Linked DNA regions of Homo sapiens. The protein of the gene in region 7 interacts with the protein of the main gene of each other region in a pairwise test. Each region holds a gene or a part of one and is shown on either strand. Other genes may lie near its edges. The genes, in order: BET1, APOD, SEC22A, SLC38A7, PEX16, ZDHHC15 and CLEC10A.

Region 1 (4,626 bases), on a different chromosome or scaffold from region 7:
GAGATGGAGTTTTGCTCTTGTTGCCCAGGCTGGAGTGCAATGGTGCAGTTTTGGCTCACTGCAACCTCTGCCTCCTAGGTTAAAGCAATCCCCCTGTCTCAGCCTCCCAAATAGCTGCGATTGCAGGTGCCCGCCACCACACCCGGCTAATTTTTGTATTTTTAGCAGAGACAGGGTTTTACCATGTTGGCCAGGCTGGTCTTGAACTCTTTATCTCAGGTGATCCGCCCGCCTTGGCCTCCCAAAGTGCTGGGATTATAGGTGTGAGCCACCGCACCTGGCCTATCCCCTGGTTTTCTTAGTTGAACTATTGGAAGAACATCTTAACCTATCTGTTCCTGTTTTTTTGCACATTATGATCTGAGCTATATAATCATTGCCACAGTCCTCGTTTAGAATATTTTAAAACTTGCATCCTGCACTCCCAGAAGTCTTCAGCGTCCTTCCATGATTTAATAAAGTTCATGCTTCGTAGCTTGATTAAATCAGATAGATCTTTCAAAAATTGGCCTTAGCTTTTGAGATCTTATCTCTCACACTTCCAGAATCTGTATGTGCTTCCTGCTAGACAAATTACACTTTGTGTCCTCTGTATGCTGTCACTTTCCCACCCCCATATCACACTATCCCTTTGCCTTAAGCCTCCACTTCCTTCTTAGATCAACTGAAGTGCTGCTTATCCACATCCGCCCCACTTCATTGCACCCCCTCCCTCCAAACTTTTACCTGATTACCACATCCAAAAGTAACTTTTCTTCTTATGAACATAAGACCATTTGTGCCATTTCTGTAGCACTTATTCATAGTGATTTGCATTGGCATTATTTGTATGTAAAAGGAATTTACCAGAATGCAGGTTTTCTATTGTACTTACTTTATATTCTATATAGCACTTAGCATAATTCCTTATCAATGGTGTTGAGTAAATTTGTATTGAACCAAAGAATTACACGAAGATGATTTTAATAATATATGTGATTGATACTGCATTATAATGAACATGACGTTCACTTATAAAGCATTCAGTAGAAGCCCATGTTGATAAAACTTAATTGGTATTTCAATATAGTCTTTGGAAAATCGAATTACATTCAGTCTGGAGACCTTTAGATTTTGAAACAGGATTGTTTTCAAAGTCATATTAAACTAAAGTTGATTTATGAACTAAGTAATATTGTATAATGTTAATTTTAAAAATACAACACTTGGAAGGACTTAAGAATTAAATGCCTTTAAAAACCCCCCCAATGTAGATAATTTAGATTACTTGTTAGAAGAAAGTTGTGATGTCCTGGAAATATTTTTCCTTGGCATGAATGACAGTGATAGAAGTTGAGTAATGTGGGCAGTCTAGCTTTATAGTTACTTTATTATCTCTGAGTTGTTAAATCTGGGAGGAAAGCTCATGTTCTGATCTATAGAATTCTAGTATGGTTTTGTATCAGTATTATCCCATGTGCTTTCACACAGATGAAGAACAATATTTGCAGTGATTTACCAAGATTTTCAGTAGATGATTCTATTTATTTAAATATCTTGGAAGTGAAGCCTTTGATGAATCTGTCCTATAAAGTATTAGATAGATTTTGGTTTGAATAGTTGTCATAATTAGCTATAGTATTGTATTTTGTAAGCTATGGCTCTTTTCTTCAGAGCTTCAGGAAGTAAGTAACACTAATATTTATTTTTTTCAATTTATTATCATATTTTAAAGCAAAAACCTTTAAACTAAGGAAAAATCAGTTTAGACATATTTAAAGTAATGTAACATTTCATTAGGAAAATATTAAATACTTCTGTCTAGATTTGAATTGGTTGTATGGGTACTTCTAGATCTTTCAAAATGTAATAAGGTTGGGTACTAGGCTTAATTCTTGGTTGACGAAATAATCCGTACAACAAATCCATGTGACATGAGTTTAACTGTATAACAAACCTTCACCTGTACCCCCAAACCTAAAATAAGTTAAAATATATATATATAATTTATAAAATATAATAAATAAAATGTAAGAAGGAAATATACAGATATTTGTAGGAATTTGTAGCTTTTGTAGGAATATAATAAAGATATAAAAGCATACAAGGTTAAGAGAATCAGAGAGAAGTAGTACATACCAAATTAAAAGATGGAATTGAATATTAAGATGAAATTAAAATAAAGAGGAAAGAAGAAATGTCCATAATTGGGAGGAGTAGAAATTCCAAATTTATTTTTTATTGATCTTGGTAGAAAAAGTATCAGAAAAAGAGAGTTTATGTGTCTAGAAGACCGTTTCATTTCAGAAAATGTGTATGCTTAGAATGACATTATTTTTACTTTATAACACTTGAATACTTTTATGTGAGTAATCCTGTGTATACCTTCTTCTTTATAGCTTTCCATTGAAATAGGCCATGAAGTTAAAACCCAGAATAAATTATTAGCTGAAATGGTAAGTGGTTATGATTTTAACTTTAAGAAATTTGATCTAATATTCGCAAATAATAGAATTTCAACTTTTATTCATTTTGAAATACAGAGATCGTAAGTCCTTGATTCCCGTCCATTTGTATCTAATGTGTTTGGAATAACTATAAGGTTTATTTTGCCATGCTTTTGCATTTTTCATCTCGTCTTACGCATGTAAGTGGGAGGAACAAGTGGAAGCCAATATATCTTTAATCCTGTTTTTAGAATGATTGTTAAAAACAAGACAAATGACTATTTTGAGTAGTCTTAGAAGTCTCAATAGTAGAGACTACTAGTAATTTATTAACCAAGCAATCAAAAGGCACTTGATATCCAACCAACTAAATGTCGTTCACTTAATGGATACTTACTCTTTTGCTTGATTTCCTAAGGATCACTTATGAAAAAAGTGCTCATACATTTGAACAGCCCAGAGCCTTTTCTCTCTAACAACATATACCTTTTCTTGTTAGAGTCCCCTTCCATTTGTTAACGTTTATCTTGAATGTCAAGCTTCTCTGAACCTTCTCTGGTTCCATGTGCTTTTAAAATTGTGCTATTCAAAAATGAATTTGGCATCAAAAGCAATGTTCTTGCTAAGCTTGTGCGCTATAATAAGCTAGGGACCTCTTTAAAAATGTATATGCCTGATTCTGTCTTTAAATATACTGATTTAGAATTTCGTGAGGAGGGATCTAGATGTAAATATTTTGAAAAAAGCATCTCTGGTGATTCTGATGCATAACCATGAAAAAGCATCTCCGGTGATTCTGATGCATAACCATGGTGAAGATCCATAGATCTAAAGTATATGAGCCACATAGACACTGAGCTATACAAAGGATATTTATTATTATGCCAGGGCTTTTACATCTCAGGATATTATAATTTCTATGAAAGTATGTGTAATATTTCTAGTCCCTACCTAAGCCTCTCTCATCTTTAGGATTTTCCAGCTATGTTTTAATACGTTAGTTTTTCCCCATCCATATTTATAGTCCTTATCACATTTTACTACCTCTATATGATATTCTCTTAACTTAATAGACTCTACTTCAAAGTCAGCTGTCTAAACAAAAGGATATTAAAAGTAAAGGTCCAAGGCCTAGCATGGTAGCTCACGCCTATACTCCCAACATTTTGGGAGGATGAGGTGGGCGGATTACCTGAGGTCAGTAGTTCAAGACCACCCTGGCCAACATGGTGAAACCCCATCTCTACTAAAAATACAAAAAAATTAGCTGGGCGTGGTGGCGTGCGCCTGTAGTCCCAGCTACTTGGGAGGCTGAGGCAGGAGAATCACTTGAACCTGGGAGGCAGAGATTGCAGTGAGCTGAGATTGCACCACTGCACTCCAGCCTGGGCAACGAGCGAGACTCCGTCTCTAAATAAATAAATAAGTAAATAAAAGTACATTTAACTGCTAACCGTATTACATTTTGGATGAAATCCTCTACTTGGGTAGCAGTCAACCATTTGACCTTGGAGAGCAATGGCACAACAAAAAGTGGGGAAAAAAATCTGTGTGATAATGCACAAAGTACTTACATTTATTGTTAATTTTTTTTATCCACATAATTGGAATAACACCTAAATAGTTTTGAGTTGTTGAATTACTCTGTGGAGCTGAAAGAAGTGTTTATTGGACAATGAAAGAGCTTTTTATTCGCTGAGAGTATTACTGTATTTTGCATGGAGAAATCAGGCTGATTATCCAAGGTTATCAACAGGCTCCTGAATTGATTAAACACAAAACTGTCATTACAAATGTACTATGGTAACAGTTATTCAATTACTTGGATATGCATATGTAGACTCTTAGAATCTAACTGTGATATTTTATTTGCCTTTATCTCTGATAGGATTCACAATTTGATTCCACAACTGGATTTCTAGGTAAAACTATGGGCAAACTGAAGATTTTATCCAGAGGGAGCCAAACAAAGCTGCTGTGCTATATGATGCTGTTTTCTTTATTTGTCTTTTTTATCATTTATTGGATTATTAAACTGAGGTGATGCATGTAATTGTGAATTTGGAATTTGTTCCAACTTAATGGCTTGCAGTACCACTTTGATAAAAATCAGCATCAAAACATTCCTAGTGTTCAAATACTGTGGCATTTTCCATTGAAAATTGCTGAATTTTGCTTATTTTATAAATCACATTAGTTA
Region 2 (4,626 bases), on a different chromosome or scaffold from region 7:
TTACAGGCAGCATGGGATTACAGGCATGCACCACCATGCCCAGCTAATTTTTTTATTTTTAGTAGAGATAGGGTTTCTCCATGTTGGTCAGGCTGGTCTTGAACTCCCAACCTCAGGTGCTCCACCTGCCTCGGCCTCCCATGGGATTACAGGCTTGAGCCACCGCACCTGGCATCACAAGGAGTTTTAACCACAGGAATAAAACTAATGTAACCAAGAGGCATCTTTGGAAGAGGGTCAGTCAAAGGGGTTGTTCTGAAATCCTCCTACTGAGGTAAAGAATCTGTTTCAGCTCACAAGAGAGCATTTTGTCAGAGTAAGATGTAGAACTGACTTTTGTTGCAGTGTCATGTGGTGGTGAGACTCATCAGGTCACAGAGGTGGGGGGTTATTGAAAGGCCCTATGGCGGTGCACAGAAGAAGCAGATTCGGGGTGCTGCAGACAGGAGAGGGGGAGATGGAGCTCGAGTCCCAGCTCTCTGCCCCTTCCAGGCCCCAGCTTCCCCATCTGTACACCTTGGAAGTAGAGCTAGAAAGATGACCTCTAAGGTCCTATCCAGTGTGGGGACCTTGTGGAATGTGCATAGTGTGTGGCCAGTCTTTGAGGTTTGATCCTCTGGGCCAGGCTTTCAGCTTGGGCCTACTAAGTAGAATTCAAGATCTCTTTAAAATGGATGCAAATTTGTGTGGGTTTAGGCTGCATTTCTATAAATTCATCATCCCCCAAAAGGTTAAAAGACAGGTTTTGTTTATACAGTGGTGGAGCCGATGAGAAACGGAACCTCAGAGACCAGGGAAAGTGGCCCTGTGGCAGACTTGCTCAAAGGGGCCTCAGCAACCATCTCCCCCTGCAGCAACCCCAGCTGGCAAGCTGCCACTCCTTACATAACTGTTCTTTGGAAAACCAGGCAACAAAACCTCCAGGGGAAAAAAAGCTATTGATTATTAAAGGGTATTTAGAGGTTTAGAGACTCACAATAAAGCAGTTATAATTATTCCTGTAATGACACATCCTTCGAAATGCTCAGATCTGAGAACATTTTGCTTGCATTGCATCAGTCATCATCATTACAGGGAGAAATGCAGAGAGCTGGAAATAGCTCGTGTGCAAGCTACAGGCAAGGAGTCACAAGGAAAGGAGCAAATTGACAGCGAGTCAGTGAAGGAAACAGGGGAGCTTCCAATGCCCAGAACCTGCACACAGTCCTGCAGCCTCTGTCTCCCTGCCTTGCTGCCCCGCTTCAAAGCCAGCTTCTGCTGCCAAAGGACTCTTGGGGTTGAAATGCTTGTTGCACAGTTACACATCAGCTGACAGTCCTTCTCTGATTTAATGAACTTCATCTATGAAAAATACCCTCAACAGGCCGGGTGCGGTGGCTCAGGCCTGTAATCCCAGCACTTTGGGAGGCCAAGGCGGGTGGATCCCCTGAGGTCAGGAGTTTGAGACCAGCATGGCCAACATGGTGAAACCCTGTCTCTACTAAAAATACCAAAATTAGCCGGGAGTTGTGGTGGACACCTGTAATCCCAGCTACTCAGGAGTCTGAGGCAGGAGAATCACTTGAACCCGGGAGACAGAGGTTGCAGTGAGCCGAGATTGTGCCACTGCACTCCAGCCTGGGTGACAGAGTGAGACTCCATCTCAAAACAAAACAAAACAAAACAAAAACCCTCAACAGAATGTCAAAAAAAAAAAAAGAAGAAAGAAAGAAGAAAAGAAAAGAAAGAAGAAACCTGGGAAATACCATCATCTTTCTGCTTTTGATAATAACAATAACTAGCATTTATTGAGCATTTACTCTGTATCAGACACTCCTCTAAGTACTCTCTGTATATTATCTCATTTAATTCTCACAAAAATTCATGAGCTAGGAATGATAATTATTCCCATTTACTAGACAAAGAAGCTAAGGCATAAATTGGACACAGTTATACTTAGTATGGGGCAGAGTCACAATTTGAACCTGGCTGGGGTGACCCTGGAGCCCCCAGCAGGCCGCTCCCTGTTAAGGTTTCCAAGCGCACTCTTGGGCTGGTAGAACAGCCAGCAAGACGAGGGCAGGGGGAGGGATGGTGTCAGAGAGGCATCTCCCTGAAGAATCTCAGAGGACACTAAGTGTTGGGCAACATTTGGTTTGGTTTCGTGTCTTTCGTGGTTCACTTGGAGGCTTTAATCCCCCACTTTACATAGCCCTCTCCACGCTGTTTCTGTTCATTTGACAAGTATCTACTGAGCCGACACTTTGAGGTCCGTGGGTGATTCTGAGGAGAACTAGACACAGTGCCCATCCTGGGAGATGCATAATTAGGTGGGACAGGGGTGAAAATCAATCCAACAAACCAGAATACCAGGCAGAGAGCGCCCTCGTGGAGGTGCAGAGGCTCTGAGGAAGGCCTCACAGCAACAAGGACAGGCAGGTGTTCCCCTGCAGGATGAGGGTTCACATGGGCTGGGGAGAGAAGAGGAGGGACCGCCCACAGAGGGGACCATGGGCACAGCACTCTTACTTCATGATTGTGTGGCCTTAGAAGGCTCAGAATGACAACCCCAGCTGCTTTGCGTTCCCGCAGCTCCAGGTCCCTTCTCCAGCCACCCAGCCCCAAGATGGTGATGCTGCTGCTGCTGCTTTCCGCACTGGCTGGCCTCTTCGGTGCGGCAGAGGGACAAGCATTTCATCTTGGGAAGTGCCCCAATCCTCCGGTGCAGGAGAATTTTGACGTGAATAAGGTAAAAGGCGAACCTCCCGTTTGTTTTGCTGCCTCCGCTGTGAATAAGCGTTCTACAAGGTTCAATGTAATTATGCTGCTTTAATTTCCACTGCACACCTTGGGACAAGTATTTATCTTATTTGGGGTTTCCCCAAAGCAGACATCTGCTGAGATAAAGACTGCAGGCAGAGAGGTTTGGGATGATCCCGGGACGCACGAGAGCAGGTGGGAAGGTGAGTCGGAGACAGCACAGAAGCAATAAAGGGTGCGTTCCTGAGCTGTCGCCCTGGGCCGTCAGGGTCAGTCACACTGGGCACCCTCTGAGGACACGTGGAGCATGCCCCTCCGATTGTCCCACAGCTGCTGCCAGCAGGTCATGGGAGCATCCGTGGCTCTAGCTGAGCCCCCTGGCAGAGGAGAGACACAGGGTCTCAGGTGGGAGGCTGGCAGTGTCTGGGAATTGCCTACCGTGGCTGCGGTGAACTCAGAGGTGGGCTGAGGGGAACAGGACCAGGGAACCATAGTAGCTGCTACAGAGCTATTATCCTTGTTCTACAGATGCAGCATCGGAATCTCCCTCCCCAGCTCACGCAGCTGGTAAATGCAAGTAGGATTCAAAACCAGGCTTCTCAGCAGTGCAGGGCACCCAAAGGTCACTCAAACAGGGCTCAGGAAAGCCCAAAATTCTCCAGGGGGCTTTCTTGGTATCTGCACCAAAATGTCATCAATACAACGAGCTCCTCCATAGATGGTCTTTCTTCCTGGGGTTTAGCGGGAGGGGAAGGAAGAGGGCGGCAGAAAGAGGCAGCTATTGGAGGACAGGACTCACAGGCTCCCACTGTTGCTACTCAAGCCTGGAATCTCACCCTTAAGACTTCCTCTCCTTAGGAGAAGGTTTGGATCTCTTTTAAGAATGGCAACAGTAACATCGAAGTTGTTATCATACACTCGCACCTCAAGGTGAATGAGTGTTGGGACCTCTGAGGGGACGCTGGGTGGGAGAAGGAGCACCATCCATGGGATCAGGAGATACAGGTGTGGTAGGAAGAGGCCATAGAGTACACTAACGTCTACACTGACTTGCTCCACTTACAGGCTGATCCCTTTATTCAGGTAACTCTGATAGACCACAGAGAGGCTTTAAAGAAAACATCCAAGGAATCTGAGTTATACTTTCGCTTTTGGATACAAATCCCAAAGCACTTTGGAAATGATAACTGATCTGTATTTATAGAAGTCCTTTGAGAATTAAAGCAGGATTTAAAAAATAGCAGCTTTATTGAGATATAATTTGTATAGCACGTAATTCACTTGTTTAAAGTAGCTTTTCACTTTCCATTGTTGTTAGTATCATCACAGAGTTACGCAACCATCACCACCACCATCGATTTAGAACATTTCACTGTTCCGAAAAGGAACCTCATACCCATTCACGGAGTCTCCATCTCCCCTCCAACCCTTCCAGCCCCAGGCAACCACTAATCTACTTTCTGTCTCCGAATTTGCCTATTCTGCATATTTGATAAAAATGAAATCATACTATATGTGGTCTTTTGTGACTGGTTTACTGAACGTTTTCAAGGTTCATCCACGTTGTAGCATGTATCAATACTATATCCCCTTTTATTGCCAAATAATATTCTTGTAGGAAATCGTTATAGGAAATCAATTGACTGTATATGTGAGAGTTTATTTTTGCACTCTCAGTTCTATTGATCTATATGTCTATACTTATGCCAGTACCACACAGTGTTGATTACTATAGCTTTGTAGTAATCAAAGCCTTGAGGTAAGCTTTGAAATAAGAACACATGTGTCCTCCAACTTTGTTCTTCTGGTTATTCCGTGTCCCTTACATTTTTATATGAATTTTAGGATCAGCGTGTCAATTTCTGCAAATAATCCAATTGGAATTTG
Region 3 (4,626 bases), on a different chromosome or scaffold from region 7:
CGGATCATCTGAGGTCAGGAACTTGAGACCAGCCTGGCCAACATGGTGAAACCCCGTCTCTACTAAAAATACAAAAATTAACTGGGCATGGTGGTGCATGCCTGTAATCCCAGCTATTCAGGAGGCTGAGGCAGGAGAATCGTTTGAACCCAGGAGGTGGAGGTTGCAAAGAGCCGAGATTGCGCCATTGCACTCCAGCCTGGGTGACAAGAGAGAGACTCTGTCTAAAAAAAAAGAAGCTAAAGAGATATGACGACTAAATACAATACCTAACACTAGTCCAAATCCTGTGCCAAAAAGCAATAAAAAAAAAAAAATGCTATAAAGCATATTCCTGGGTCAACCGACAAAAAAAGGAAAGTTGGCAGTAGAGTAGATAAAGTATGGTAGGAACATTAAATTTACTGAGGCTGATATGTGTACTGTGGTTAAGTAAGAGAATATCCCTAATTTTAGAAAATATACTCTGAAGTAGTTATGAAGAAAGGGGCATGGTATTTATAAGTTTCTCTCAAATGGTTCAGGAAAAAAAAAATAAATCAGATAGTTAAGTAGGTAGGTAGATAAAATGAGAAAACAAATGTGGTAAAATGTTGACCAAAGGTGACTATGGGAACAGGTGTTATTTGAACTTTTCTTATTCATACAACTTTTCTGTAAGTTTGAAATTACTTCTAAATAAATTCAGAAATTAAAAATGAAAAAATAAGCACTGAAACATGAAAATTAACCATATTCTATTGGAAAAAAAGCTTTCTAGAATCTAGTATATACCCCACTATAATAAATAAGCAGAGCACAAAACACAAAGTAACCCTTTTTAATGAGTCACCTAAACATCATTGCATAGCACTGTCAATATAGCTGGTCTAGATCAGGGGCAGTAAACAGCATGCAGGATGTAATTCACCACTCCTATGCTGGACTCTGCTAAACTACACAGTAATCTTTTTTTTTTTTTTTTTTTTTTTTGAGATGGACTCTTGCTCTGTCACCCAGGCTGGAGTGCAGTGGCACAATCTCGGCTCACTGCAACCTCCGCCTCCCGGGTTCAAGCGATTCTCCTGTCTCAGCCTCCTGAGTAGCTGGGATTACAGGCACACACCACCACACCTGGCTAATTTTTATATTTTTAGTAGAGATGGGGTTTTACCATGTTGACCAGGGTGGTCTCAAATTCCTGACCTCAAGTGATCTGCCCACCTTGGCCTCCCAAAGTGGTGGGATTACAGGTCTAAGTCACCACGCCCGGCCTACACAGTAATTTTTACTGTAAAATTCTGATCCATACTGGTCACCTTACTATTTTCTTTCTCGAATAACATAGAAGCAGAATTTATTAATGTTTAGAATAAATATGTTCACAGGATTCAAATTTAACAAGAATGAAAAATAAAAGGGTATACTGCACTTAAAGTGTCTTATCACTCTTGCCCAGATACCCAGTTCTCCTTCCCTTGGGCAATTCAGGTTAGTAATAATTTCTTATGTATCCTTCCTGTGAGAGCTTGTAAGTAAATATGTGTGTGAATATATACATGTGACATATATATATATATATGTATATATATATATGAGACCTTTTTTAAAGACCATCCTAGGCAGCCAAATGGGCTTGCCACCTACTAGTCGTCTATTACTAGTGGTATGGGATATACTAGTGGTGAAATAGTGCTGATCTTATGGTTCTAGAGTAACCTGGTTGTTCCTTTCTGAAGCATCACTTAATACACAGTCATTTAGTGCAATGTTTTTCAAAGTGCAAGTTGTAAACCACTATGTCATAAAACTAGTTTAGTGAACTACAGCATTTTCCAGAAATTGAAATAAAATATAACAGAAAATATTGGAATATTGTTTCATAAAACTTTTTAGTTTCCTATATGTGTATATACAGCATTCACAAAGTAAAATGTATCTCTTAAGGATCATAATCAAATTAATTTAGCCATAGCATATTGCCTTTTTCTACAAATTAATATCTAAATCAAAGGTCAAAATATGCTTTGTCAAATGATTTTCTTTCCAAAAAAAATCTTCACTGTCATTATCAAAGTTCTTTGACATGTCATTAGCATTCAAATATACCCCATAATAACCTCAATAACCTGAAGACAATTGGTAATTGGCTTCCACATCCTAGGAACTCCCAATTGGCTAGCTAGGAGTTATTTGATTATCCTCCATTAATATGACTGAAGTTTTTGGAACCCATTTTTTGTATTATGTCAGAGTCTTACTGTATTTCCATATTAATAACAGAGTCAGCCACAGACACCTACATGACAGTTTATCCCAAATGGTCTATCTTACTTGTGCTAAATGTAACTAGACAATTGTATGTGAAATAAAGGAAACCCTATGTCTTTAACATGGCATGTGAGCATTTTCAGGGAGTCTTTATTTTACTACAGTTGCAAGATTCTCTCTGAAAAGGCTATAGTGTGTTCTATAACATTATGGCTTTTCATAGTAAATTTAGTTTTATAATGCTTTATTTGAAATGCAAAGCTAGTTTTCCCAAAGTATATACAGTTCCATTTATGTTTGTGATGAAAAAAATTCTGCTTTTTCAACAATCATGGGACAGATTGAAATACTCCCACCACTTCACTGAGGACTACTCATAAAATAGTCTAAAGTCATTACAGGCATGCCAGTTTGTGCATGCTTTTGCTGTGTTCATCAGGTTCACCTAGCTAATATTTTATAGACAATCTGGCGGATGTCTATCTGCCTTGAGGAGAAAGAAGAGAAATAGTAGTAAGAGTAATAGCACCACGTAGTTTACTGACCGCTTAGTATGAGCTAGGCCCTTTGCTAAGTATTTTACATATTTAGTTTCATTCTCTCAATAAAGGGGCACTATTATCTCCATTTTACAAATGAAAGAAAAGAAACTCAGAGAGGCTTAGTAACTTATCCAAGGTCACACACCATTAAGAAGCAAAGATAGGATGAAGTTAGTTGATTCCAAGGCCCACATTCTTTCCACAATACAATACCAACTTCCATGTAGTATAGATTAACCAATTATCCCTAATTCACCAATGTTTTTTCACTTTTTCCAAGCCACAAATCAATCTCTATTTTATTCCCGAAATTAAGAGTAATGAAACTTCTGAGTTTTGGAACCTGTATTACAGTTATCTTCTGGAAGCCCTCCCAAACACTCCACTTCATTTTGTACATCTTTACTCCTCCCTCTCTACATTCCAGCCACCCACTGGCCTTATTTCAGATCCCCAAGGATGCCAACCCACTTCCAGCCCTCCCACTTCCAAACTGAGAAACTTCATGATTTTGTCTTCCCCACTTGCAATGCTCCAATTCTGAACTGGCTAATTCCTACATATCCTTCAGTTCTTAGACTGAAAGTCCTTCCCAGAACACACAATCTAAACTGATCCCACTCCTACAGTATATCATAGCAGCTGTTAGTTTTCTTCACAAACTAACCCAATTTGTAATTGTATATTAATATATTTTTGTTGCAATGTCTCTCTCACTAATATACACACTCCATGAGAGCAGGGATGATTTCTGTATTGCTCACCATTATATTCTTAGCACTTAGAATATTTTGTGTCTAGTATACCATAAGTGCTCAGTAAATAAATGAGTGCAAAGGTGGCATCATTCCTTTACTCATTTATACACTAATTTGTTGAGTATATCATGCACCAGTAATTGTACAGCTTAGTAGTATCTACACAAAGCAGCAGCTCAATAAATACTTGACTAAATGACAGAAGAGAGTAGAACTTCACTTGTCTTCTAGTTACTGTTCTCCAGAAGGCTTTATTGAGGGTTCAGGTCAGTGAATCTTCGACATGTCCTTAAGAGAGGGATGTTCTCAAGAGCCAGGTAGAATTACTCACCTTCACAGTGAGTACCCCGAGAATGGCTATGCAGGTCTCAAAGACTTGTCTGCTCTCCCTTTATCACTGTCATTACTCACACACAGACAGACACACATACAAACACACACTCTCTCCTCTTTTCTCTATCTTGGGCACAATTTTTAAATTGCCAAGGTTTTTTCCTACTTTGCTCTAATTTCCTTTATATTGTTTAGCTCCATTCCATTTCTGGGCTTTGGTGCCAGTGGGGTTTGGTCTTTACTGGTACTGCTTTTCTTTTACCTGAGGAATTTATCCAATTTCATTATATTTTTGGTTCTCCTCCCTGGCACACCCACTAGGAACTTCTTTAGGGTCAAGTATAACCTAACAGGTAAGACTGGCAGAAGTCCAAATACCAGACATAGGAGATTTACCCCTTCTAATCACTTTGCTAAAAAGCTAATTCTATAATGTGTCCAAGCCATTCCACAAGTGATTCCTATGTTCAACAAAATGAATAAATGGTTTTACACATTAAACTTTTTTCTAGTATCTAATTTGATTTACAAACTGTCGAAGAAATTTTACATATCACCAATTAAACACTGACATTATTAGGACAATTCTGGCCTGTTGCACCAAACTAAATAATTAGTAATAGCAAATATCTTCCTCTCAGCAGACAGAACACCTAGCATAGGGCCAGCATTCTACTTCATAGGCTCTGATGTCAAAGATATAGTCCCTGCCTGCCAGGAGCTTACCATACTACTACTGGGGA
Region 4 (4,626 bases), on a different chromosome or scaffold from region 7:
ACATTTAGAACTGAATCTCTCATGGATGCATCCTTTTTCTATGATGGAGACAGAAAAGGATGGTCTTATCTGAAACCCTGCAAGCCCCGGTCTGCCCTGCCTTGCCTACTCTTGCTCCCCAAGGTGAGGTGGCATGGAGGAGCAGGGTTCCCCAGGAGCCCTTGGGTCTACAGCTGCCCAGGATCATAGCTTCTGTCTGACCCAGGCTGGGGCCTCCAAACCTGGCATATTTCTGGAAACCAATCTCCCTGGGGATGGAGAGGGGCAGGATGAAGAGGAAGGCAGTGAGGCTGATGGTGAACTTGCGGTCTGTGTACCAAGGGCCGCTGGCCCCCTCCGGCTCTTTCGCCATCACAGCTATAACTGCACAGGGAGGAAGGAGGGAATGTCAAGCCAGGCCACCATGGGGTGTGGCCCTCCTGCTCTGCTGGGCCCCAGGACCTCCCTCTGCCTGGAGGGAGGATTCCCAGATGAATGCTGGGCCCAGGTAAGTCCTGGAGAGGTGTTCAGTGCCTTTTCCCTCCACCCCAGGATCCCTGGGGCTGATAAGAAGAGATGGGGTAGGGACTGAGGGAGAAGCTCACTCTTGTCCTGCTGGTCGCCAATGATGATTAGGAAGGCAATGCAGGTGCCAAAGGTGTAGACAGCGATGGCCACCTCACATAGCACACCTGTCAGCTTGCCACACACAGCCCATACCACCTCCTGGTAGGTCCTCTCATTGCTGGCCTGGGAGCAGTAGGCCAGGATGACAAGGCCACTGATGATGAAAACCAGCATACCCTGCAGGCAGAGGCAGAACAAGAGCTTGTGGCAAAGGCCTGGCAGCAGAGGGCACCCTGGGCTCGCCTAGCATTTACTGGGCCAGTGCCCAAAGCAAGCTTGGCAAATCTCACAAAGGCAATTTTAAGAGACTGCTAGAGGATGCCGAGTTGAGATTTTCTTTAAAAACAAAAAGTTTTTTGAAAAATTGCCAACATACAAAAGTAAAGAGAATAGGCTGGATGCGATGGCTCATGCCTGTAATCCCAGCACTTTGGGAGGCTGAGGCAGGAGGATCACTTGAAGTCAGGAGTTTGAGACCAGCCTGGCCAACATGGTAAAACCCCGTCTCTACTAAAAATACAAAAATTAGCTGGGCATGGTGGTGGGTGCCTGTAATGCCAGCGACTTGGGAGGCTGAGGCAGGAGAATCACTTGAAACTGGGAGGCAGAGGCTGCAGTAAGCCGAGATCGGGCCACTGCACTCCAGCCTGGGTGACAAAGCAAGACTCCATCTCAAAGAAAAAAGTAAAGAGAATAGTAAAAAGAACTGGCATGTATCCATCACTCAGCTTCAAAAATGATCAATGCATGGCCAACTTGTTTCATCATTCCCCTTCCCTCCCACTCTGCATTTATTGTGAAGCCAATATAAGCTATCATATCATTTCATCAATAAATATTTCAGTATGTAGTTCTAAAAGATAAGGGCCCTCTTTTTAAACATACCACAAAATCAATGTTACACCTAAAAAATTAGAGATGTAATTGATGTTCAAATTTCTCTGATTGTTGGAAGGCTTCTGAAGCCTCATTTGGGTCACAGGAAAGAATACTAGAATAGATTAGTCATGTCTGCCATGTGTGAGGGAGGGGAGAGCAGTGCGTGTATCACTTACTGGCCATCCCTGACCCGAAGCCTCCCTTTTGAGGCAAAGCGCCCAACTGAACTGCACCTCTGCCCTCCCGGCCAGTGCACTCACCATCTGCAGTGCGATGCCTGCTGCCACGCCCCCCGCAGTGCTGAAGGCTGCTGGGAAGTTGAGTAACCCTGCACCCAGGCACGCGTTGACGACGATGAAGATGGCCCCAAGTGTGGAAGTGGTGCCTCTGTCCAGACCCCCAGGAGAGGCTTCCCACTCACTCTTGGGGGCTGTGTCCACACAGGGACTCTGCAGCAGCCGAGCCCGCTCCCCGGCATCCGTGCTCAAGTCCCACTCGCTGTAGTCATTGTTGATGCTGACCTGGGCCATGGCCCCGAGAGCCTTCTTCCTGCAAGGTCTGTGGGTTCTGCCTTACAACCACATGCCTCAGGGAGCTGAGCAACACCCACCTGTTTGGGGCTGTTAGCTTAGGACTCTTCTCAACCTAGATGGGACAAAGGCAGGCACTACTGTTATCCTAAGATGGGGGAACTAGGGGACAAAAAGGTGTAATAACTTTCCCAAGATCACATGGGTAGGGTCCAAACCCAGGTATGCCTCTGTGCAGACAGTGCACTGGGTGCCAGAGTATGGGGAGACAGACACAGAAACAGATCAGGTGCAAATCATGCTTGCTTCAGGCATACAGACTCAATGGACCAGTTAGATGTCAACATAAAATGGGTACTAACACATCAGCACTCGATAGAGGCCCCGCATCGGGCAGGTGTGTCATGGATATACTTTATCTCATTCAATCCTTAGGATGGTCTTGTGGTCAAAAGGTTCGGAGAGATCCCATCACTGACCCAGGGTCATATATTAGCAAGTTGCATAGCAGGATTTGGATCCAGATCTGTCTGGCTTCCCAGCCTGTTTCCACCCCACAGGGTCCCAAAAGGACCCCTTACCAAGAACTGAGATTCAACATATTACAGTCCAGCACGCCTCCCGGTGGCCTGGAGTCTGAATTCTGTGGCTTTCGAGGCCCTTCGAAATTCAGGCCAATTCTCGACTCTTCTCTCATGTGACAAGCCCCCATGCCTGTCATGTTTGCGTCTTCAGGAAAACAGTGATTCATCCCATGCTTCTAATGCTCCCAACTCCTTTGCCGCCACCCTTTTAGGTCCTATTTCTTCCCCATTTCCTGGGTCACTCACTGAGCTCTTCTTGGAGCCATGTAGGGGCCCAGAACCACTCTAGCTGGTTTCTTCTCAGTACTCTCTCATGTGCTAGCATCTCACTGGCCACTAGGCTTGCTTTCCTGGGCTAGATTACAATGATCAGTGCCAAACATGCAGTGCTGTTTGTCACTATAAACCACTATTGCTGCAGCTATGGAATGCTTTCTCATTCAATCCTCAATGCAGCCCTAAAAGGTAGACATGACAGTCACCATTTTACCAAAGAGGAAGCTGAATCCCAGAGGGGATAACCACTCTCCCCTCAGTCATATGGCGGTCAGTGGTGGAGCTGGGATTCAAACCCAGGCCTGTCTGACCATAGGGCATCCATCTGTTTGTATCTGCCCCACTCCTGGGTCCAAGATGGTACCTTGGGTATGGCAGAACTCAGATAACAGGCTTATCACCTGACTGATTCTCTTTGCTCTCTGGATAAACACAATTGAGATGCAGTTTTTTTTCTTCCAAGAATCTCGAGAGGCTCTGAGGAGCCCAGCCCTGAAAAAGGATCTTCAGTGTTCTCAAGGTTCAGCTCATAGCCTGAGACCCGCAGAGAAATGATGGTCCTAAAGCATCAAGTCCACCCCCAGATCAAGAGCAGCCCTGGGCAGGGCTGTGATCTGGGTCTCCGAGTAGGTTCTGCCGTCAGAATGCTGACTCCTCCGCTGCCTATCTGTGTGACCCTGGGCAAGTCACTTCGCCCCTTTAGGCCTTTACATCATATGTTCCTGTGGGTCGTGTGTTAATATCAGTAAGGGTTTAAGACTCAATAAATGGTCACTGCTGCTGTTATTTCTGCAGATGCCCCTTCCCATGTTGCCCACCACCACCATGCCTGAGACTCTCCAGCCCTAAGCAAGCAGGGAGCAGAACACTGATCAAAACCAGAGCCTGGGCCGGGTGTGGTGGCTCACATCTGTAATTCCAGCACTTTGAGAGGTCGAGGTGGGCAGATCACCTGGGGTCAGGAGTTTGAGACCAGCCTGGCCAACATGGTGAAACCCCATCTCTACTAAAAATACAAAAATTAGCCAGGTGTGGTGGTGCACCCCTGTAATCCCAGCTGTGCAGGAGGCTGAGGCAGGAGAATCGCCCGAAATTAGGAGACAGAGTTTGCAGTGAGCCCAGATCACGCCACTGCACTCCAGTCTGGGCGACAGAGTGAGACTCTATCTCAAAACAAACAAACAAACAAAACTCAAACCACAGCCTGGTGCTATTGGCCAGGTAACAATGGGCACAGAGGCCCTGGGATAGCTAATGGGAGAAAGAGCAGGAAGAAGGCCAGATTTCAAGGGCAGGAACTAAGGGGGCAGGGAGGAGCCAGGGCAGTCTTCCCCAGAGGCTGCTATTAGCTGGTTACCACCCAGGCTGGCGAAATCTGCCAAAGACTCCTTCTCCTAGAGTCTCCTCATTCCTGAGTCCCGATTTCACGGTACTCATACAAAACTCCATTTTAATCTCTACTCCCTCCCTGGTTTAGTCTTTATTTATTTAGAGACAGGGTATCACTCTGTTGCCCAGGCTGGAGTGCAGTGGCGCAATCAGAGCTCACTGCAGCCTCAATCTACCAGGCTCAAGCAATCCTCCCACCTCAACTTCCCGAGTACCTGGGACTACAGGTGTGTGCCACCACAGCCAGCTAACTTTTAAAATTTTTTTTTTTTTTGAGACGGAGTCTTGCTTTGTCACCCAGGCTGGAGTGCAATGGCACAATCTCAGCTCACTGCAACCTCTGCCTCCCGGGTTCAAGAGAC
Region 5 (3,983 bases), on a different chromosome or scaffold from region 7:
CTTCACTGACCACCGTGCCGAATGCAGCGCATTCCAGAAAACAAAGGTGACTTTCTTGGGAGCTAGGACAAAGCCCGGTACACAAGGGCAAGACCTCTGGGGTTGGCTCTGGCCTCCACCCTCCACCAGCTCAGCTTCGGGGTGGCCGCTGACCCACAACACCTCCTCCCATTCCTCTTTCCCCTTCCACCGACATCCAACACTGAAGGCCTCTAGAGGGTCGCATGTGGAGCAGCGCCCTGGCAGTATGGTGGAGGGTCCAGGGAGGACAACCCCACCCTGCCCTCGGGAAGCCCCCCAGTCTGGCAGAAGTGCTGGGCTGCATGGAAACCTCACAAGCCACCAATGAGAGTAGTCAGGACCTTGGTAGGGGACACAGTACTGAAGAGGGCACATTTTGGTTCAGGGGAAGGGGCAAGGCCCAAGGCCCTGATTTTTAAGACAGGAGGGTTTTCCACAGGGGAACTCGGGTGAGATGAGGATGCTGATGACAATACATAGCGCTACGTGCTTACTACACCCCACGCACTGCTGTACGCGTTAGTCACTGAACCCCTACAAAGTGGGTACTGTCATCATCCCCATCTTACAGGTGAGGAAATGAGGCACAGGCGCATCAAATAACTTGCCCAAGGCTACACATCTGGAAGGCGGCCTGACTCCTTATATGTCTGTCTGAGCAGCAAGAAAAGAGGAAGCCTGGGGGCCGGGTGTGGTGGCTCATGCCTATAATCCCAGCGCTTTGGGAGGCCAAGGCGGGCAGATCAATTGTGGTCAGGAGTTCGAGACGAGCCTGACCAACATGGAGAAACCCCATCTCTACTAAAAAATACAAAATTAGCCGGGCGTGGTGGCGCGCACCTGTAATCCCAGCTACTTGGGAAGCTGAGGCAGGAGAATTGCTTGAACCCGGGAGGCAGAGGTTGCGGTGAGCCGAGATCACGCCATTGCACTCCAGCCTGGGCAACGTGAGTGAAACTCCGTCCCAAAAAACAAAAGAAAAGAAAAGAAGAAGGCTGGCTGGGTGCAGTGGCTCCACCTATAATCCCAGCACTTTAGGAGGCCAAGGCGGGCCTTTGTTTCCCTAAAGGACAGGGAGCAGGGTCCAGAGAGGTGCCAGGGTGTGGTCCAGAAGGAGCAGCCTTACTCTTTTTTCTGTTTTAAAAAAAAGATGGGTCAGGCCAGGCGCGGTGGCTCACGCCTGTAATCCCAGAACTTTGGGAGGCCGAGGCAGGCGGATCACGAGGTCAGGAGATCGAGACCATCCTGGTTAACACGGTGAAACCCCATCTCTACTAAAAAATCAAAAAAAATTAGCCAGGCATGGTAATGGGCGCCTATAGTCCCAGCTACTCAGGAGTTGAGACAGGAGAATGGCATGAACCCGGGAGGCAGAGCTTGCAGTGAGCCAAGATTGCACCACTACACTCCAGCCTAGGCAGGCAACAGAGCCAGACTCCATCTCAAAAACAAACAAACAAAAAAAGACAGTGTCTCGCTCTGTCACCCAGACTGGAGTGCAGTCGCGCGATCTCGACTCACTGCAACCTCTGCCTCCTGGGTTCAAGCGATTCTCCTGCCTCAGCCTCCTGAATAGCTGGGACTACAGGCGTGTGCCATCACACCTGGCTAATTTTTGTATTTTTAGTAAAGACAGGGTTTCACCATGTTAGCCAGGATGGTCTCTACCTCCCGACCTTGTGATCCGCCCGCCTCGGCCTCCCAAAGTGTTGGGATTACAGGTGTGAGGCATCGTGCCTGGCTAAACTATGCCAGTTTTGTTTTTTTTTTTCTGTTTTGTTTTTTTGAGACAGGGACTTACTCTGTCACCCAGGCTAGAGTGGGATGGAGTGATCATAACTCACTGCAGCCTCAGCCTCCTGGCCTGATCCTCATGCCTCAGCTTCCTGAGTAGCTAGGACTTACAGGCGCACACCACCATGTCTGGCTAATTATTATTATTTTTTTTTTTTTTTTGTAGAATTGGGTTGCCCAGGCTGGTCTCGAACTCCTGGCCTCAAGCCAACCTCCTGCCTTGGCCTCCTAAAGTGCTAGGATTATAGGTGTGAGCCACTGCTGCCCAGCCTATGCCAGTTTTTAAGCTATTATTAGGTCCTAGACAAAGGGGGTCCCGGGAGCCTTGTCTGCCTCACAGTCCCAGCCACTGCACAGGGTTTCCCCCTGTCAGACTGTGGTCTAACCTCAAGCAGTCATAGTGGCAGGCCTGTGGAAGAACTAGTCCCAAGCTGCCCCCTGCTCAACCCAGCAGGCCTCTCTCAGGCTGGGAGCTCTGGACCCTCGCAGGTGACTGAGTGGGGGCTGGGCCAGGCAGGGAAGGCCAGGGGAGATCCTGGGTTTGGGATCTAGCTCTACCACTGGCTAGCTGGGTGTCTTTAAGTTGCCCAACCTCCTTGAACCTCCAGGTCCTCCTCTGAGAAGTGAGGATAAGCCAAACTATTTGGCAGGAAGAAGTGGAAATGAGCTAGAGGCCATGGGCGCCCGCCCTGTCGCCATCCCTGTGGGCCACCTGGCAATGCCCTCAGCCCTGCCCTCAGTGCCTCTCCTGCCAACCAATGTTTAAGTTCCTGCTCAAGTGGCCTGATGGCCCAGAGAGCTCTGCGGGCGGGACTGGGCTGGCATCTGGTGACTGCCACCCGGACAACACACAGTGCTTGGTGAACCCTGGATGAGGCGTGGGGAAGGGAAGGCGCCAGCAGGGACCGGAGCACCAGTGCCCGCTTGCCAGCCCTCTCCCTGGCTCAGGGTGTCCTGGGTGCTTACTCGGAGAAGCGGTCATAGAAAGGAGAGCGCAGCAGGTAGTAGAGCAGCAGGATGGTCCGGCGCCGCAGCTCCCGCCGCTCCCTCCGGGTCAGGCCCTTTCTGTCACTCAGGAGGCTCAGGCTGGGAGGCAGGGAGGACATGGTCAGGGCCAGGGGCATGATCTAGGCCCACGGAAGGGGAGGAGCCATGGGCTGGGTGTCCAGAGGGGCAGCAACAGGAGGAGCAGGGGCCGCTGCCACCCCGCCTATGTGAGGCCAGGATTATAGCAGAAAGCCCAGTGGAGAGTGAAGCCCCAGGCAGGCCCAGGCTCACCTGGTCACGTCCACAACACCAGCCAAGAGCCAGGGTTTCCACGACCTCTGACCCCACAGGCCCAGGCTGAGCACTGACGGCCAAGGCGTCAAGGATGTCTCCAGCACAGGGGCCTTGCTCAGCACACTCCCCACTCAATCCCCAGCCCACAGTGCCAGCCCTATCCTGCCCCGCGCTAAGGATACAGTGCAGCAGCGGCCGGGCAATGTACAAAAACTCTGCGATGGTCTCCTGCAGCCCCAGGGGGGTGGGGGTCGCACTCAGCTCCTCGTGATGCTGCTGCTGCCGTCCCTCCCGCTGCTGGGGAGCTCCCCAGTGCCTGGAGTGCAGGGACGGCGCTAGAACACAAGGGCGGCAGATGAGCGAGCCAGGCCCAGGCTGGGGCAGGGGAAGGTGGCTGCTGACCAAAGCCAGTCCCTCAAGCCCAGGCAGACAGCACCTAGGTGCCCAGGCCAGCCACATCCTCCACTTACTGTTCTGGAGGGTTCGCACCACCCGGTTTGACCGCTTCCCCACGTAGGACTGCTCATGGTTGCCAGGGCTGTGGTCACCATCTAGCAGGGATAGACAGAAGGCCATACAGTCAGAGGGACATGCTTCCAGCGGAGCCTGCAAAGAACGTGTGCAGTGAATGCTCAGGAGCTAAGGGGAGAACAGATGAGCTTGTACTATGGCAACAGCTGAGTCAAGGGAACTACAAGCAGGGTGGCGGCTCAGCACAAGACCCGTCCACAGAGGAAAGCACTCTGCAGCCCTCCCTAGCCTGGGGAAAGCTCAGCATAGCTGTGGCCAGAGCCAGCCTCCCGGAACCCATGGACAGGCAAGGCAGGGAAGGCCCAGCCTGACCACATCTATGGAGACCACAGCACCAGAGGGGCCGTCTCCTCTCA
Region 6 (3,681 bases), on a different chromosome or scaffold from region 7:
ACAATGAGTATCTTCATTTTGCAAACGGAGAAAATGAGTATCAACAATTAGGGAATGAGATTCCACAGAGGTTATTGGACAGGGATCCAAAGAAAAGCAAGCAAAGAAGCCAGATCAGGGTGTGCTAATTATTAAATAAAGTTCTGTATTCTTGATTAATAATCAACCAGTTGGGTACCTATGTACATTAGTCAATACTCAAATGATCCATGGATAGGGATATTATCAGAGTCTATAAACCAATGAGACCAAAATGCTAAGATAGGAATAGGTTTTCTTTTTATCTCTGAGCCCCTGGTAAAACCCTGATTTATTTGGCTTTTTTTTTTTTTTTTTTTTTTTTTGAGACAGAGTTTCACTCTTATTGCCCAGGCCGGAGTGCAATGGCACGATCTCAGCTCACCACAACCTCTACCTCCCAGGTTCAAGCGATTCTCCTGCCTCAGCCTCCTGAGTAGCTGGGATTACAGTCATGCACCAACACTCCTGGCTAATTTTTGTATTTTTAGTAGAGACAGGGTTTCTCCATGTTGGTCAGGCTGGTCTTGAACTCCCGACCTCAGGTGGTCCGGCCGCCTTGGGCTCCCAAAATGTTGGGATTACAGGTGTGAGCCACTGCGCCCAGCCTTATTTGGCCTTTTAAAGACAGTGTAAATCTGTAAGACATTAAACAATCAGCTTTGCATTACATCTTTCCTGAGCTTTACCTCTCCGGAACTTCCTTATAGTTAACTGACACTATATTTTGTGACTTGACTTCTGTGGGAGCTGAGTGCTGATACACCCTATGCATCAAAGAAGTTCTTGATGTTTTTCTGACTTTGAATCACAGTTAACAGCTGCTCTGCCTGAATGCTTGGCAGAAGATGATTGATGGGAAAGAGGAAGATTACTTTGAGGCCTACTTGCTGTGTAGTAAGTAAAGGCCATACATGTAGAAAAAGGTGCATATCTATATGAATAGAAGACAAGGCTTGTCTGTCATAAAACCATGGGAATGGCCAAATAAGGTTTCAGGAAAAACCGAAATGAGAGTATTTTGAGAAAGAGTGTAAGGGGAAATTTTTTTCCATCTGAATATATAAGAAGATTTCATCTTGAAACCCAGTGTGTGCATAGTCATCTAGGCTGCTTTTTAGCTTCTGAGTTTGAGAAAGTCACTAGCCCTAATAAGTGTAGTCATGTCTAGTATTCTCTCAAATGTAATGCTGACCACAATCCATTTAATTTATGCCAAAAGTCTCACCTTGGTCAAAATTACCTAGGGATCCAGATGAACAGGTTTTGTTGTTGCTTTAAGTAGCTGGATTGTTCACTTTCTCAGCTCCACTGGAACCCCAACACTAAATTGTGGCAGGCAACTCTTTTTTACTCAAACATATTTCAGGGAAGATAAATTAGTAAGCCAAACCATCCCTCTAGAAGCTCAATTCCTTGATACCTGTAAGATGCTTCTAAATTCCACTGATCTCTAAAAGAGTTGGAGCTTTTATTGTCAGCAGCTGGGCACTAGACTGCTGGATGAAAAAATGAAAGATATCAATACTCTTAAGATATTATTATTGTAAAGAATCAGTACTAGTATTCTCACTCATTGATTCAGGCACTAGGACTAAAAGAAAGGCTGATTATAAATAAATGGGGAAATTGATGCAAACTGTATTAATGGCTTAGCTACTACTGAAGCTAAAAAAAGAAGAAAGAACTGGCATATTACTATTTGGTTATCACTGTCTGTACAATAGCCCCTGCTATGAAAACACAGCTCTTTAGTGCTAATCCTCAGGCTAATGTCAGCTGTGAAACTTTACCCTTATGAAAGGCAGTGAAATTAAACCTGAAAATCACTCTGAAAACCCTTAACAAAACCTATGGGCCATAACTTAGGCTTATAGATTTTCTTTCATCATAAAATAACTCATAAAGGCTAAAATAAAACTAGGAAGCAGATAAATGAATAAAAGTAATTGGAGAATTTTACTGCACCCTGACAAAAAAGTCTTTAAAAAACACTGGTTATTATGTTCAATAAAGTTTATGTCCTGAATTTGATCTTCTTGAGTAGCTGTGGTGCTTTCAGGAACATTTGTGACAGAACAGGTTTTACATTGTTGTTCAAATTCCAATTTGAGGACCTTGGTCACAGTGTACTGATTCACCCTCCCAAATTTTAGATACTTGATATAGCGATGATTCAAAGTCTAGCAAATATTTAAGTTGCTATTTAGAGGAAAAGCATAATTAAACAAAGGCTTCAGGTTTTTAGCCCTGATTTTCACACTATAGCAGAATTTTGTATAGATATGCTGTACGTGTTCACAAATGCACACGCACACAAGCAGCAAATGTAGTTTGATTCCCTTCAACACCAAAAAGGCCCTATATATGTGATTAATAATCTTTGTGGGGGAATTAAAGACTCTAAGGAAATTTTCTGAATTTCCTTTTACCTGATAAGATGAATGAAAAGATATATTTTACATTTAGGCTTTCATGGATTGGGGGAGGGGAAATGAAGAAACAAAAAAAATTGGCTTGAATTAACTGCTACCAAATTCCAAATTGGATTTCAGTCAGTAAATTAAATAACATAAAGTCCAGAAACATTTACACAGCAAGTATTTGATGGAATTCTTTCAAATTTTGAAGCTTTCAATCCAACACGGTGACTTATTTTGAAGATTACAATGATTTCCAACATTGAACTCTGTAAGCCTCATGGGAGGCAGAGATGGTGAGTCCTGGGAATGAAGAGAAGAAATTCACAGATGAGCTGAACAACTGTAAATATTCATGTGGTAACACCCACTTGACAATAATATGCAACCATTAAAATTACATTTATGAAGAGTATAGATCAGCACTGAAAAATGTTAAGTGAAAAAGGCAGGATATAAAATTATATATACAATGCTATATTTTTGACCCCCAAAATTACATTTGGAATAAGAGACTGAGGAAATACACTGAACTATTGAAAGTGGTGGATTCATGGGTAATTTGTTTTCATTTCTCTACCTTCTACTTGCATTTTCCACATTTTCTTTAGTAAATATATAATTTGATACTTCAAAAATACTATTTTTGAAATCCACATGGAAATAACAAGAGCTTTGAAATTGGGCAATTATGAAGCTGAATTCTAGCTTTGCCTCTTATCTCCATAACTCTAGAAAAATAATGTCAATGGATCCTAGTTTACTCATCTGTAAAACTGGTATAATATAATCTTCCTGAAACAATATCTGGCATATAGTAGGCCCTCAAGTAGCTATTTGTTTAAGCTTTCCGGAAAATGATTTGGCCTTATCCATTGACCCTTTAAAAAATTCATACCAGTAATTTTGCTTCCAGGATTCTATCCTATGGAAATGATTATAAATGAGGAGAAAGATTTATGTTTAGTGATATTATTCACAACATTATGATGATGGAAAATTGGATAACATATCTTATTAAATTTATTTTTATTTTTAATTTTTATGGGTACATAGTAGGTATATATATATTTATGTATTACATGAGATATTTTGATACATGCATGCAATGCATAATCATCACATTTTGGTAAATGAGGTATCCATCACCTCAAGCATTTATCCTTTGTGTTACCAACAATCCAGTTATACTTTTATAGTTATTTTAAAATGTACAATTAAATTATTTTTGACTATAGTTACC
Region 7 (4,341 bases):
TACCAACAGTCATGGGGGTCACAACAGAGCCACTGAAGCACTGATGGGGCACTGATGGAGTGATTGATGGGAATGGAGGAGAGGGCACTGATGGAGTGATTGATGGTAACGGTAGGGGGGCACTGATGGAGTGATTGATGGGGACGGTGGTGGGGGCACAGACGGAGTGATTTATGGGAATGGTGGGGGGCATTGATGGAGTGATTGATGGGAATGGTTGGGGGTCACTGATGGAGTCATTGATGGGAATGGTGGGGGGGCACTGATGGAGTGATTGATAGGAACGGTGGGGGGTCACTGATGGGGTGATTGATGGGAATGGTGGTGGGGGTCACTGATGGAGTGATTGTTGGGAATGGTGGGGGGCACTGATGCAGTGATCGATGGGAATGGTGATGGGAGCACTGATGGGGTGACTGATGGGAATAGTGGGGGGCACTGATGGAGTGATTGATGAGAACAGTGGTCGGAGCACTGATGGAGTGATTGATGGGAATGGTGATGGGGGCACTGATGGAGTGATTGATGGGAATGGTGGGGGGGCACTGATGGAGTGATTGATGGGGACGGTGGTGGGGGTAGTGATGGAGAGAGTTGACGGACCCATAGTCAGGATGGCTGCTGGCTTTGTCACTGAGTAGTTGGGTTATGTACTCAAATTACTTCACCTCTCTGAGGCTTAGTTTCCTCATCGGCAATATTGAACAATAATAGTGCCTGCCCCACTGGGTTGCCGTGAGGACCCAATAAGGCAATGCTTATGGAGGGCCCTGCTCGGTGCTGGTACAGAGGACCTGATGAATCCCAGCACTGACCTTCCCATCCACCTGTTTAGATTCCAAATTTCAGAGGGACCTGGTGACCCTGAGAACAGATTTTAGCAACTTCACCTCAAACACTGTGGCGGAGATCCAGGCACTGACTTCCCAGGGTGAGTCTGGTTTGGATGGGGCTCTGGGCTGGGGCCAGGCCAGGGAGGAGGAAGTTGACCCCTAAGCCAAGTCTCCGTGTCCTCCAGGCAGCAGCTTGGAAGAAACGATAGCATCTCTGAAAGCTGAGGTGGAGGGTTTCAAGCAGGAACGGCAGGCAGGTGAGAGACCCTCCGAGTATGGGTGTGGGGGGCTAGGCGCTCAGACACAGTGGAGGTGGGAACAGACTCCTGGTGCTGAACTGCCCTCCCCTTCAGCCAGCAGCTTGAAAGGCAGCATGCAGGCCGGGCGCAGTGGTTCACGCCTGTAATCCCAGCAGTTTGGGAGGCCGAGGCGGGTGGATCACGAGGTCAGGAGTTCGAGAGCAGCCTGATCGACATGGTGAAACCCCGTCTCTACTAAAAAAAATACAAAAAATAGCTGGGTGTGGTGGTGGGCGCCTGTAATCTCAGCTACTAGGGAGGCTGAGGCAGGAGAATTGCTTGAACACGGGAGGCGGAGGTAGCCGTGAGCCGAGATCGCGCCATTGCACTCCAGCCTGGGCAGCAAGAGTGAAACTCCGTCTCAAAAAAAAAAAAAAAAAAAAGAAAGAAAGAAAGAAAGGCAGCATGCTTTCTCTGGAGAGCAGGCTGGAGAAACAGGGGCAGAGGAATCCAAAGCAGATTTGATGGCTGTACCTGGCCATGATGTAGGGGGTGGGTGGGGGCGGGAAGGAACATTCCCTGGCTTGGCCCTGTGCAGGGGTATCTGAGCTCCAGGAACACACTACGCAGAAGGCACACCTAGGCCACTGTCCCCACTGCCCATCTGTGTGTGTCCCAGTTCATTCTGAAATGCTCCTGCGAGTCCAGCAGCTGGTGCAAGACCTGAAGAAACTGACCTGCCAGGTGGCTACTCTCAACAACAATGGTGAGGAAGGTATGGGGAGTACCTGGCCCTACTTTTCTGCCCATGGCCCACTGGGCAGAGCCTCAGCCTCTCCACCCTATCCTATTTCTCCCCAATCAGCCTCCACTGAAGGGACCTGCTGCCCTGTCAACTGGGTGGAGCACCAAGACAGCTGCTACTGGTTCTCTCACTCTGGGATGTCCTGGGCCGAGGCTGAGAAGTACTGCCAGCTGAAGAACGCCCACCTGGTGGTCATCAACTCCAGGGAGGAGCAGGTGAGGGCTTCTGGTACTCAGTTCCTAAGACATGTCCCATTTAGGGAAATGGTTCTTAAGCTTGGCCGCACATTGGAATCATCTGGGAGCTTCCAGAATGACTGTCATCTGTGCCACACCCTCAGAGATTTAATAGGCCTGAGCATCCAGAGAAACATCTCCAAACTCCTCAGTTGATTTAACGAAGAGCTAAAGTTGAGAATCACTAGTTTAAGGAGTTGGCTGGGATGGGAAGAAGTCACCACTGCCCTTCTGTCACCGCAGAATTTTGTCCAGAAATATCTAGGCTCCGCATACACCTGGATGGGCCTCAGTGACCCTGAAGGAGCCTGGAAGTGGGTGGATGGAACAGACTATGCGACCGGCTTCCAGTGAGTGCACCCTGGCTTTCTGTGCCAATGTCCTCCGTCAGCGTTTCCCCCAGGGATCTGACTGGCAGCCTCTCCTCCCCTGAACTGAATTCTACTCCATCTACCCTTCCTAGCTTGCTGTTGTCTTTTCCTCTCAGGAACTGGAAGCCAGGCCAGCCAGACGACTGGCAGGGGCACGGGCTGGGTGGAGGCGAGGACTGTGCTCACTTCCATCCAGACGGCAGGTGGAATGACGACGTCTGCCAGAGGCCCTACCACTGGGTCTGCGAGGCTGGCCTGGGTCAGACCAGCCAGGAGAGTCACTGAGCTGCCTTTGGTGGGACCACCCGGCCACAGAAATGGCGGTGGGAGGAGGACTCTTCTCACGACCTCCTCGCAAGACCGCTCTGGGAGAGAAATAAGCACTGGGAGATTGGAAGCACTGCTAACATTTTGAATTTTTTTCTCTTTAATTTTAAAAAGATGGTATAGTGTTCTTAAGCTTTTATTTTTTTTCCAACTTTTGAAAGTCAACTTCATGAAGGTATAATTTTTACATAATAAAAATGCACTCATTTAAAGAGTAGAGATGACTTTGACAAATATGCATGCCTAGGTGACTACCACTCCGATCGCAATAGATAACATTGCCATCGCCCCCACCAGTCCCCTCATGCCTCTGGGCAGTCCAACCACTTCCCTGTTTCCAGGCCAGTGATCTACTTCTTTTTCACTATTTATTGGCCTTGCCTCTTCTAGAGCTTCTAGAACTTCATATAAGTGAAATCATACACTCTCGTGTATATACTTCATATAAGTGAATATATACTCTCGTGAGAACTTACGTACTTTGTGTTGCTTGATTTTTGGCAATCTAAAAATGGCAGAGTGGAGAAGCCAGGTGAAGCCTTCGAAAGTCCTATGTGATTGAGAAAATAGCATTTTCTTCTCATATAGATTTGAGTTCAAATCTTTTCTGTCACTTAAAGATGGTATAAACTTAGGGTGATTAGGAAAAGCCATTGTTTAATTTCTCTGAAGATCCCAGAGTTGTTGGGAGATGTAGATAAGATCCCCAGGTGTATTGGTTAGCAATTGGTGTGTAACAAACCACCTCAAAGCTCAGGGCTTATACAGTAAGCATTTATTATAGCTCATGAGGCTATAGGTCTGGTCTGGCCAGGTTTGGGTCATCTTGGCTGGGCTTGTTTATGCGTCCGTGGTCAGCTGGTGGGTTGGCTTGGGGTTGGCTGGTCTAGGGTAGCCTTGCTCCCATGTCTCATATTTGGCTGGCTCTGGGCTGGGACAATGGGGATGACTGGGCCACATTAGCTTAGCCTGGCCTTGTTCACAGAATGGCTGGGTGGGGGTCCAAGAGAGAAATTGGAAGACTGCAAGGACTTCAGAGCCTTGCTTGGAACTGAAGCATCGTTTTTGCTGCATCCTATTGGCCAAAGCAGATTGCAAGGCTGCCCAGGTTCAAGGGCCAGAGAAATAGATTCCACATTTTGGTGGGGGGTTGGGGGGGGGTCTACAAAGTCATACTGTGTAGAGAATGGATATAGAGAGGGGTGGAGATTTCTGTTTTTTCAATCAATCCAGCATATACCAGGGAAGCATCTCAGCTATTTTGATTTTTTTTTTTTTTTTTTTTTTTGAGACGGGAATTTCCTTCTTGTTGCCCAGGCTGGAGTGCAATGGCGTCATCTCAGCTCACTGCAACCTCCGCCTCCCAGGTTCAAGTGATTCTCCTGCCTCAGCCTTCCGAGTAGCTGGGATTACAGGAGCCTGCCACCATGTCTGGCTACTTTTGTGTTTTAAGTAGAGATGGGGTTTCTCCAGGTTGGTCAGGCTGGTCTCCAACTCCCGACCTCAGGTGATCAGCCCGCCTCGGCCTCC

Evidence for each region.
Region 1: the proteins of CLEC10A (region 7) and BET1 interact in binary tests that used the Homo sapiens proteins (3 or more experiments, as listed by UniProt).
Region 2: the proteins of CLEC10A (region 7) and APOD interact in binary tests that used the Homo sapiens proteins (3 or more experiments, as listed by UniProt).
Region 3: the proteins of CLEC10A (region 7) and SEC22A interact in binary tests that used the Homo sapiens proteins (3 or more experiments, as listed by UniProt).
Region 4: the proteins of CLEC10A (region 7) and SLC38A7 interact in binary tests that used the Homo sapiens proteins (3 or more experiments, as listed by UniProt).
Region 5: the proteins of CLEC10A (region 7) and PEX16 interact in binary tests that used the Homo sapiens proteins (3 or more experiments, as listed by UniProt).
Region 6: the proteins of CLEC10A (region 7) and ZDHHC15 interact in binary tests that used the Homo sapiens proteins (3 or more experiments, as listed by UniProt).

Annotation. Positions count from the first base shown.
Region 1 is NC_000007.14:93,994,074-93,998,699, reverse strand, and holds part of BET1 (BET1 homolog), read left to right. Parts: intron 1-2,378; coding exon 2,379-2,435; intron 2,436-4,314; coding exon 4,315-4,470; 3' UTR 4,471-4,626. UniProt on the Homo sapiens protein: Required for vesicular transport from the ER to the Golgi complex. Functions as a SNARE involved in the docking process of ER-derived vesicles with the cis-Golgi membrane.
Region 2 is NC_000003.12:195,577,441-195,582,066, reverse strand, and holds part of APOD (apolipoprotein D precursor), read left to right. Parts: intron 1-2,571; 5' UTR 2,572-2,605; coding exon 2,606-2,728; intron 2,729-4,626. UniProt on the Homo sapiens protein: APOD occurs in the macromolecular complex with lecithin-cholesterol acyltransferase. It is probably involved in the transport and binding of bilin. Appears to be able to transport a variety of ligands in a number of different contexts.
Region 3 is NC_000003.12:123,217,817-123,222,442, reverse strand, and holds part of SEC22A (vesicle-trafficking protein SEC22a), read right to left. Parts: intron 1-4,626. UniProt on the Homo sapiens protein: May be involved in vesicle transport between the ER and the Golgi complex.
Region 4 is NC_000016.10:58,678,112-58,682,737, forward strand, and holds part of SLC38A7 (sodium-coupled neutral amino acid transporter 7), read right to left. Parts: intron 2,131-4,626; 5' UTR 2,016-2,130; coding exon 1,746-2,015; intron 784-1,745; coding exon 585-783; intron 364-584; coding exon 222-363; intron 1-221. UniProt on the Homo sapiens protein: Symporter that selectively cotransports sodium ions and amino acids, such as L-glutamine and L-asparagine from the lysosome into the cytoplasm and may participates in mTORC1 activation. The transport activity requires an acidic lysosomal lumen.
Region 5 is NC_000011.10:45,911,038-45,915,020, forward strand, and holds part of PEX16 (peroxisomal biogenesis factor 16), read right to left. Parts: intron 3,648-3,983; coding exon 3,567-3,647; intron 3,432-3,566; coding exon 3,279-3,431; intron 3,167-3,278; coding exon 3,094-3,166; intron 2,902-3,093; coding exon 2,782-2,901; intron 1-2,781. UniProt on the Homo sapiens protein: Required for peroxisome membrane biogenesis. May play a role in early stages of peroxisome assembly. Can recruit other peroxisomal proteins, such as PEX3 and PMP34, to de novo peroxisomes derived from the endoplasmic reticulum (ER).
Region 6 is NC_000023.11:75,370,205-75,373,885, forward strand, and holds part of ZDHHC15 (palmitoyltransferase ZDHHC15), read right to left. Parts: intron 2,742-3,681; 3' UTR 1-2,741. UniProt on the Homo sapiens protein: Palmitoyltransferase that catalyzes the addition of palmitate onto various protein substrates.
Region 7 is NC_000017.11:7,073,482-7,077,822, reverse strand, and holds the end of CLEC10A (C-type lectin domain family 10 member A), read left to right. Parts: intron 1-835; coding exon 836-931; intron 932-1,018; coding exon 1,019-1,090; intron 1,091-1,670; coding exon of another isoform or gene 1,671-1,751; coding exon 1,752-1,838; coding exon of another isoform or gene 1,839-1,847; intron 1,848-1,937; coding exon 1,938-2,092; intron 2,093-2,356; coding exon 2,357-2,463; intron 2,464-2,600; coding exon 2,601-2,769; 3' UTR 2,770-3,286; downstream 3,287-4,341. UniProt on the Homo sapiens protein: C-type lectin receptor involved in recognition of N-acetylgalactosamine (GalNAc)-terminated glycans by myeloid antigen presenting cells (APCs).